2 linked regions of the Homo sapiens genome follow. The protein of the gene in region 2 interacts with the protein of the main gene of each other region in a pairwise test. Each region holds a gene or a part of one and is shown on either strand. Other genes may lie near its edges.

Region 1 (4,623 bases), on a different chromosome or scaffold from region 2:
AATGCTGAAGGCTACCTGGTAAATGTAAAGGGAGTGCTGGAGTTGGAAAAATCATCACGTTGTAACCATAATGATAAAGATTAAATCAGGCAAAAATAATCAATGGATGCTAAATCTAGGGGAAAATGTTGATGTAAAACAGGCTGTTTGTATGTTCTTAAATCGTCTCCCCATAGATTACTTATTAATGACAAAGGAGAATTTAAATAATGTACCAGGTAAGCAAAATTAACATTACTAGTGAGAAACAAAAGGACATTGTGTGCCTGCATATGTGACATATTGAGAACACACCACCACCTATGCAAGTAATCCCACCAAGAATGCGCAACCTCAATCTAATCACAAGGAAACATCTGAAAAATACACAATGAGCAATGTTCTGTTAAAGGTAAAAGCAGCGGGGGAAGCAGAAGGGAACTGTATTTTAAAAAAATATCAATGTTATAAAAGAAAAAGAAAGATTATGGAAATATCCCAGTTTAAGCTAAAGAAACTTGACTACTAAACACAAAACCTGACCCTAGACTGGAACCTGTTTTGGAAGGGAAAAATGTTATAAAGAAATGACATTCAGTCAACATATAGATGACAGATTAAAGCACTGTTAATGAAAAATTATGAAATTGATGACTACACTATGGTTATATAAGAAAATATTCTTTGACATACACACTGAAATATCCTGGGGGTAAAGGGCTACAATGTATATAATTTATCCTCACATGATTAAAACAAAATTTTGTGTGTGTCTGGGTGTACACATGCAAGTGTGTGTGTGTGTGTGTGTGTGTGTGTGACAGAGAGAGAGAGAGAGAGAGAGAAAGACTGAGCATGCAAAAGTATAAGAAAGACTGAGCATATAAGTGCATATGCAAATGGAGAAATGGAATAAAATGTGTTAACAATAGGTGAATCTGGGTAAAGAGTGTTGGGATGTTCTTTGTATTATTTTTATGTTTGTAACTTTTTGTGTATTTGAAATTATTTCCAAAAAAAGTTAAAAAAACAAAAACAAACACAAAACCTTTGTCCTACGTAATAGTGGTTATCCCAAGAAATAAGCACTGTTATTTTTACATTTTTGTTTATACATTTCTGTATTCTCTGAAAAGAGAATAATGAGCACATATTAATTTTAAAATAAAGAAAAAAAAGAAAAGAATAGCATAGTATGTACAGCCCACTATCCTTTTATACAGTAGCGCCAAAACAATGGATGATATTCACTGCTTTCTACTAGCTTGCTACCACAAACACAGAGCTTCAAAAGTTGCAACTGAATCTGATCTCTTTGAAAATTTCTGAATTCAATTAATTCCCAGGAGAGTATTTCTCCATTTGGTTTTAGTGTGTCTGGAATCCTTTTTAAAAAGTGTAAGTCATAAAAGAGTTTAAGACGTAAAAGAAATACAGATATCTTTCAGATGCTGGGAATGCTGGGAACTTTTAACCCAAAGCAGCTCCCACAACCATGACCACTGCTCAGCTTTAGTGGTACTTCAACCAGCTCATGGCTATCTTGTCCTTAATTCCTTTCAAATCTCTCTAATGAACGGATTCATTTCAGTTTGCCCATCAGGTTAGTTTCTGTCTTAGAGGAGAAAGAATTCAAGTTGTTCTTGCTTTATTTTCAATAGTAGGTTAATTTGCCAGAACTCTAGTTAAAAAAAGTATTAAAGCAGTAACATTTTTTCTTAAAAATCTTATGTGAACTGCAGAATTGTGTCAAGTGACTTTTTCTCATTTAATTCACGACTTTTCATTTAACTCAGTGGAATACATTTTATTGACAGATTTCTTAATACTGAACCACTTAAAACAATCTTATGTGAACTCAGCGTATAAAAAGTGGTGTTGCTTTGGTTGAGGGGAGTCCTAGACTCCTTCCCTGCTCACACCCCTCTAGCAAATAGTTTAAAAATCACTAGGCTAGAGAAAATTGCTATGATGGACCCTGCTATTCTGGTCTCCTAGGCACTGTGACAAAACTGCAGAATCAACTGTCCATCCTCTTTGCTTTTCTTATATAAGTTATTTCTGAGATATAATCAAAACCAAACAAAGAGTCAGGAATAGGAACAATTACCTGTTTTTCCTCAGGAGGCAGTTTACTCCATTCATTGCCTAACATCCTTGTGATTTCTGGAAATGGGACTTCTGGTCTCTTTGCTCGAAGTTGTTCTCGACGCTCATTCATGAACCGAACATATCCTGTAAGGGGGGATTTGGGTGCATTGCTGTCTCGAAGAGGTTTCTTCCTCTTTCTTCCTTTGGACCAACCTCCTCGTTTACTTCGTTGCTACAAAACAAAACAAAATAAAAAACCAAAAACCAAACAACAACCATCTCCCAAAATAACCCAACAACAACAAAAACAAACAACAACAAACAAAACAGGATTAAGAGTTGCAATTTGGCCCTGGATATTCAAAGCTCTCCACATCTGTTGTAGGTAATATACAAATGACAGCAATGCAATTTTTGAGGAACTCCAGATGCTTCACTTGCAACCTCTTTTATGTATCACACTACAAAATGTTACACTAAAGGGCTATTTTTGTGCTAATCTCAATGTATGAGAATAAGAGGTGCCATGATCACTCAGCTTTGACCTTCATATGCATATGACTGTCCCACAGACAACTGTCAGGTCCTGATTCCTGACAGGAGAGTATCCAAATGGGAAATACAGCAGCACATGCAGCATTGTGGCAGGGAGGCAGACATTGTCAGATTAGAGTAAGATGGTGTCACGTGCACCAGGCAAAAGAAGAAACAAGTTGTAGCAGAAATTAAAAATAACTCACAATGGGAGTTGCTCATTGATAACTTTCAAAGACTAGCTTATTTCCCATAGCAGATAGCAGATAGCATAGCATAGCAGATAGATACTAAATTAATATCTAAGTCTCAGAAAAATTTTAGTAAGTATAATATATCTGAAATGAAGACGAGCTCTTTGGCTTGACAATTTGTTCCTTTAGATGTACATTTTATTTTAATTTTTTTTTTGAGGTAGAGTTTTGCTCTTCTTGCCCAGGCTGTAGTGCAATGGCGCTATCTCGGCTCACCGCAACCTCCGCCTCCCAGGTTCAAGTGATTCTCCTGCCTTAGTCTTCCAAGTAGCTGGGATTACAGGCATGTGCCACCACACCCAGCTAATTTTTGTATTTTCAGTAGAGATGGGGTTTTGCCATGTTGATCAGGCTGGTCTCGAACTCCTGACCTCAGGTGATCCACCAGCCTCAGCCTCCCAAAGTGCTGGGATTATAGGCGTGATCCACTGCACCCGGCCTAGATGTACATTTTATAGTCAGAGGTCTTTATATGTTGAGTTACCAGGTAAATCAAAAGATTGAATCACCTCTGAAAAAAACTAAAGAAATGAAAAGGACTGAGGTACCACTGATGTTTCACCACAGCCTTTCTTCTTGGCCCTTTAAATAAGATGTAAGGTACATAATATTTTTACTTCATAATTTTACAAATACAGCCGTATCAGTTAATATTTCATGGATACAAGAATTCTTATTTCAGACAAGAGAAATATAAATAAACAAGGACAAAAATATCTAAATACTAATTGTAGTACTCTACTCCTCCAAATATATATAAAATGGTATAATTCACCACTGGGCAAATTATGTATTTGGTATTAGGTTTTTCTTTTTTTAAACCTAGTTACATTAAAGCTACTGTGGGCTGGCACGGTGGTTCACACCTGTAATCCCAGCACTTTGGAGGGCCAAGGCAGGCGGATCACTTGAGGTCAGAATTTCGAGACCAGCCTGGTCAACACGGAGAAACTCCATCTCCACTGAAAATACAAAATTGCCTGGGCATGATGGCATGTGCCTGTAATCCCAGATACTTGGGAAGCTGGGGCAGGAGAATAGCTTGAACCTGGGAGGCAGAGGTTGCAGTGAGCTGAAATTGTGCCACCGCACTCCAGCCTGAGCAACAGAATAAGACTCCACCTCAAAAAAAAAAAAACAAAAAACAACAGAACAATTTAATTTCAAGGTATTTAAGAAACTTTAAGCATTCATTATAATCTTTAAAAATGCCAATAGGATAGATAAAAAAAAATTAGTTGTTTTTTTCTTTCTTTTTTTTTTTTTTTTTTTTTTTTTGAGACGAAGTCTCGCTCTGTAGCCCAGGCTGGAGTTCAGTGGCGCTATCTTGGCTCACTGCAACCTCTGCCTCCGGGTTCAAGAGATTCTCCTGCTTCAGCCTCCTGAGCAGCTGGAATTACAGGCACACACCACTGCACCTGGCTAATTTTTTGTATTTTTTAGTAGAGACGGGGTTTCACCATGTTGGCCAGGCTAGTCTTGAACTCCTGACCTCAGGTAATCCACCTGCCTTGGCATCCCAAAGTGCTAGGATTACAGGCATGAGCTACCATGCCCGGCCAGCTTTTTTAAAATAAGAAAAAAGACAAAAATCAATGGTGGCACTCTTTATTGGCTTAAAAAAAAAAAAGAGTGCCTTAAAACACTGACAATGTAATCAGTTATTTGTAAGAAACACTGAAAGTCCAACAAGGGCATGACTGCCCAGGCTCATACGCCTTTGTGTGAGTTAAGGAAAGTTACCCCCTATGGGAGGGTGAAAGAT
Region 2 (5,534 bases):
TTGGGTCAGGCCCAGACAACAGGAAGCTGGGTGCGCTCAGCCTCCATTGCCTAAGCTTTCCGGCCAGGCCCTGCTGGAGAGGTGAAACTGCCCCTCCGCCAGGCCCCCCGCCCCCAGCGGCTGAAGGGGGTGGAATACGTCATTCCTCTCCCCTATTGCGAAAGTGAGCCTGGATTGAGGAAACCACCGCTGTCTCATCAGCCGCCCTCCCCCAGCCCTCCAAGGGCCAGGACAGCTCCTGCTACCACAGGGGCAGGGGGTGGGGGAACCGCCCAGGAGTACAAAGGAGGCGAGGTCATTCTCTGTCTCTCTGTCCCTGTCCATCTGTCTGTCTCTCTCGATGATGTCTCTCAGTCACCCCCACCCCACAGAGACAAAGGGTGGGGCAGGGCTAAGGTGGGAGCAAGGTGGAGAAAAGGGACAAAGAGGAGAGACAGGGCCAGCAGTGCCAGGGAAACTGGAGCCGTGGCCGGCACAAAAGACGGTGGCCAGGGAGTAAGGGGATGGCTGAGCCCAGCACAGAGCCACAGAGGGGACAGCTGCTTCCCGACATGAATCCTCCCAGGCCCTCACCCACCCAGGGAACTTTATGGTTCTGGAATGGCCCCAGCGGCATTTCTAGGGGCAGTAACTAGTCATAATGACATCTCCAACAGTCAGGTGGCCAGCTCCACCAGAATGCCTACTGTGCAAGGCACTGCTCCGAGCCCTGCGCGCCGACGACTGCCTTCCACCCTCACTGCCGTCACTGGCACCGTTAACATTCCCACCTCACAGGTGCAGGCACAGATTAGTTTAGTGACCTGCCCAAGGTTACGAAGCCAGTAAGAGGAGAGCTGGGCTGGCTTTGAGCCTGGAGCTGACTCTGAGCCACCACCTGGGTCCACTCCCCCAGGACAGCCCCCTGGTTGTTACTGCCGAGGGGAGGCCTCTGCTGGGGCCTGGAGCACCTGTCTGAACAGTGGTGGAGGGCAGGGTGCCCATGCCCCTTCCCCACCTGGGCCTTCTCAGGCCCCCAGGCCCACATGCCAGCCTGCCAGACAGGCTAAATTTAGGCTCAGAAATCAGAAATAGCTCTGACAGCGCCGAACACTAATTAGCAGCTGCTCCTCAGCTGTGGCTGTGCCCACCGAGGAGCCAGGCACTCCAGGGAGTAGGAGAGGGGCCATCAGATGCCACTCACTCGGGGTGGAGTGAGGCCACCCTGAAAACAGGAACAGACCCCCAGACCAGGGCCTTCAGCGAGGCAGCAGCACCATGGGATGGGGGGCTGGGGGACACACGGAGAGTTGGCTGACAGTGCTCAAGTAGGAGGGGAGGGGCTGGCAGTCCAGGTGGGCGGGATACCTGCCTCCTGAGGGGGGCAGGGAGGGACAGCTATGAGCTGCCACATGGAGGACCTGGAGCTGGCTTCAAAAGACCCAGGCTCTGGGCCCAACTAGCCCTACAGCTTCTTTGCCCCCTTGGACCTCAGCTTCCTCCTCCATAAAATGGGCGCACTCCCTCACCGGAGCCTCACACTCACGGAGCTCCTGGAACACTCAGTGAGAAGCTGAGTTTGGATTTAACAAAGCTCTTCAGTGGCCTAACACTATGAAGAAGCACTTCACAGAGGCAGAAGAGGTGGAGGGGCAGGGGTCCATGGAAGACCCCAGGGTAGGGGATGGTAGGGTGAGCAGAAGTTTGTGAAAACATCCAGAAACACAGACTTGTCTCCAAGGCTTTGGCCAAACCTTAACTAGCCTCAGCCTACTTTCCCTGCTGCCTTTAGTGCTTTGGGCCAGATGAGGAAAGAGACAGGATTCATCTTTTAGGGTGTGGCCGAGAAAAGGAACTGATTCCCCACATCTTTCTATTAGAATGTGTGGGGACCATTCTCCTCCCTCCCTGCCCTGAGTGTGAGAGGGGACCCCCAGCATCTGCTCACCTAAGACCAGCCCCCAAAAGACACTGCTAAGAGCCCTTCCCCCACCTCCCCCACACCAGTGCTTACTTCTGAGACAGTGTCCCAGGAGGCTGAAGGGGCTGCGTCCACATCTGGACACAGCCACACCCTAGGGTTTCACTTTCAGTTTGAGCGGAGCCTACGTCTCAGTCCACCTGCCCATCTCTCCCTATGGCCTAGCCCTTCAAGCCCCAGGGTACCCCTGAACTTGGACATCAATCCCAGTCTCAGGCCAGCCCCACAGGCTTTCCTCAGCCCGATGGGCCCAGAAGCTGAGCCTGTCCCCCAGCCCCCACTCCCCCATCCATCTCCCTGCCACCTGCCCACCTCTATATGGTCTCAACCTTAGTTGTAGTGTTCTCGGCACATATCCAAACACAATCAATTTTACCTCCTTTTTTAAACTTTGGCATATAGATTTTCTGGGGCTCTTATAAGCAATTCCAGGCTTACAGGAGATCTATGAGGAGACCCAGCCCCAGGATCAGGTGCTGAGGACCCAAAGAGCTAACAGCTTCTCCCATCAGAGTTCAAGGGTCCCCACAGCTGGGACAAGGGCAAGCAGGGTGGAAGCCACTACCTATATCATCCAGGCTGGTAGGAGGAAAACAACACCGACAACAGTAACAATAACAAACGCTCCCCAGACACTTTTTTTCACTCAGAATTAATCTCTCAATCCCAAACACTGGGTGCTAGGTGCCGTTCTAAGCACTTTACATCAAAACTCATTTAAACCTCAACAAGCCTACAAAATAGATACTGTTATAATCCCTATTTCACAAATGGGAAACTGAGACTCAAGGAGGTTAAGGTGCTTGCCCAGGGTGGCCTCGGTGGCAAGCTAGCAAGGAAGACCCGGCTTCCTCCAAAGAAGGAGCAGCCGGGGAATGGGAAATGTGGGTCCTGGCCCCCAGGGGTCTTCTGCAGACAGCCTGGCCCAGATCCCCCATCTGAGGAACCAGGAACAGCCAGCTCCACTTCCTGCCACCCAGCGCCCCACGCTTCCTGTTGTTGCCCACACAGAGCTCTTACTCACTGGGGAACCCCCCCACCAGCACACCCTCTCTCAGGGGGAAGTGGAGGCCTCCCCTCCCCCTCCCATGTGCACACTGCTACCGTTAGCACCATCGCTGCCCCACCCTCCAGGAGAGGTAGGCCCTCCCTCCAGCGGTTTCCGGCCACCAGGCAGTTTTCGGTCTGGGCCCCACTGCTGGTGACCTGCATAACGGTGGGGAGGTTGCCTGGCCCTCACTAGCTAAGGATCTGGGGCTCCTGGGGAGTGCACAGTAACCTTGGGTGCTCTTGGTAGTGGAGGTGGAGGGAGGGGACAGGCAGGGTCTGGGCTCCCTCCGCTAAATGGGCCCTGAGATGGAGAGGACCAGATCAGCTCCAGCTTTATCCCCTTTCTCACAGTGGAGGGGGGTTACTGAGCATCTGCTCTGTGTCAGGCACTGTGCGAAGTCCTCTATTTCACCCTCTCGACAATCCTAGGAGGCCAGCAGATGCCATTATTATTCTCTTTTTACAGGTGAGGGAAACTACAGCTCAGAGAAGTTAAGTAACTTGTCCAGGGCCATGCAGGTAGTGACAAAAATGAATCTCAACCCCCAAACATCATGACCCCAAAGCTCAGGAAACGTCCCTGCCTTTCCCATAAGTAACCCCTGTCCCCTCAAAGGCCCCCCAAGCCACCTTCCAGGGCTCCATGTTCCCAGGAAAAAGGCAGAGGTAGCCCTGAGAGCACCTGCTTCTACCCGTCTCACCCAGCTCTCTGCCAGTCAGCCCCAGATGTCACTGTGAATCATGCCCACCACATCCGTGGCTTTCCAGGGTTAGTATGTGCCAGCCCTGCCTGCTGGGAATGTCACCCCTCCCCTCTGCCCAGCCCAACATCAGACCACATGGCCACATCCCCCCGGAGATCCTCTGTCCTGCAAATGGCAGGCATAAGGCCTGAGCGACCCCATGGCTCCAGGTCCCCACACTTCATCTGCCCTGTCCCGGAGGTGGGAGTGGCCAGGGGGCAGTGCCTCAGTTGCAGTCCCTCCTGCCCTTTACTGCCAGCCCCAGAAGGGAAGGGCCCCAGCTGCAAGCAGGACTCCAGGCCCACACCCAACATGGGGCCATCCTGACCTCCCCACACAGCCTGGCCAGGCACCCAGGCCTCTGGGCACAAGCCAAGAGCACCCATCAGGCAAATTCCTCTCCACTGCTACTGGATGCCAGCATGGCTTTTGGCCTCACGTACACCACCCCTGACACCTTCCCTTGATCCCTCTGCCCCAAGGTTATGGGATTCTCCCTGCCCGGCAGATCAGGGGTGTCCCAGGCCCAGGTGTAAGTGTGGCTCTTCTGGCAGGCCTGGAAAGGTCGCCTTGTCATCCCAGTCCCTGACCCTGCGTGCCTCCCAGGGGAAGGCATGAAGGGGCTGGAAGACACCCAGCCTTGGGCATGGGCGTAGGAGAGGCGAGAGCTTGGCGCCCCGCTGGCTGGTGTTCCCACCATCACAGCAGGCCCGTGGGGCTGGGCAGCCATCGCTCCTCTGCTGTTGCTAAGGCAGCAGCCGGAAACCCTGGCTCAACCTGCTCTTTCTCTCCACCCCCATTTTAAGCAGGGGGCACCCCTTTCTTTCACAGCTTTCTTGGAAAGGTAGCCCCCCACCACCCACCCTTGCATGGGAGAAGGGCTCCCTGCACCTCCTGTCTGGCTGTAAGTGGGGACACCCCTCACCCACAAGAGAGGTCCTACAGCCAGGAGAGGAAGGAGAGTTTGGGGTATCAGGATCCTATGCCCCACCAGGGACAAAAGGGGAAGGAAGAGGTTCCCTGGGGCCGCTGGACTACATCCCTGAGGGCAGGACTGTGCTTCTCCCATTGAGACTGGGGACCACTGATGGCGGTGGGCCCCTCCCCTCAGCAATCTAAGGTTCTTCTCCTCTTAGACACTGACCGAGGACAGGACTCAGCTCTGGCCATGGTGGTTCGGGTGGGGGTTCACATAGCGACCAACTCTGCGATACACACTGCCAGACCTGAGGGTTGAACCAACTCTTTAGCCCTGGGCAGCCTCAGGCAGAGGTCAAGGTTGTCACCCTGGGGCAAGCCTCATGCCCCTGCTGGTGGGGAATGAGAGGAACCAGGGTCTTAGCCAAGTGTCCTTAGATTGGGTTTAACCTGCCCACAACAGGATATAAGACAGGCTGAGCCACCCCGGGAAGAAGGTATAAACACACTGGGGTTCCTGGGCACCTGGTAGGGGGTAAGCCCTGGTGGGTGCTGCTACCCTAAATTTCTGCTAGGCACCTCCACTTTCTCCACCAGCACACCCTCTCTGACCCACCTGTGGGTGTCCCCCCTCCACATCCTGGTACTCAGGGACTCCCAGTGGCATTTAGTGTCAGACTCAGCCAATCACAGCCACAAATCCAAGCAGGGCAAACAAGTCCTACACACACATCAGAACCTCACCATTTGACTTGTGGATTTTCCCCTGGTCTGAATTATTCACAGGGCTCCTCCCCATCAGCGTGCTAAACAGAAGATTGGGGTCAGGACCTCACCCCAAGAGCCCACACCCGCGACCATAG

What was found.
Region 1: the proteins of FMNL1 (region 2) and HMG20A interact in binary tests that used the Homo sapiens proteins (3 or more experiments, as listed by UniProt).

What each region holds. Positions count from the first base shown.
Region 1 is NC_000015.10:77,464,774-77,469,396, reverse strand, and holds part of HMG20A (high mobility group protein 20A), read right to left. Parts: intron 2,303-4,623; coding exon 2,090-2,302; intron 1-2,089. UniProt on the Homo sapiens protein: Plays a role in neuronal differentiation as chromatin-associated protein. Acts as inhibitor of HMG20B. Overcomes the repressive effects of the neuronal silencer REST and induces the activation of neuronal-specific genes.
Region 2 is NC_000017.11:45,223,783-45,229,316, reverse strand, and holds part of FMNL1 (formin-like protein 1), read right to left. Parts: intron 1-5,534. UniProt on the Homo sapiens protein: May play a role in the control of cell motility and survival of macrophages. Plays a role in the regulation of cell morphology and cytoskeletal organization. Required in the cortical actin filament dynamics and cell shape.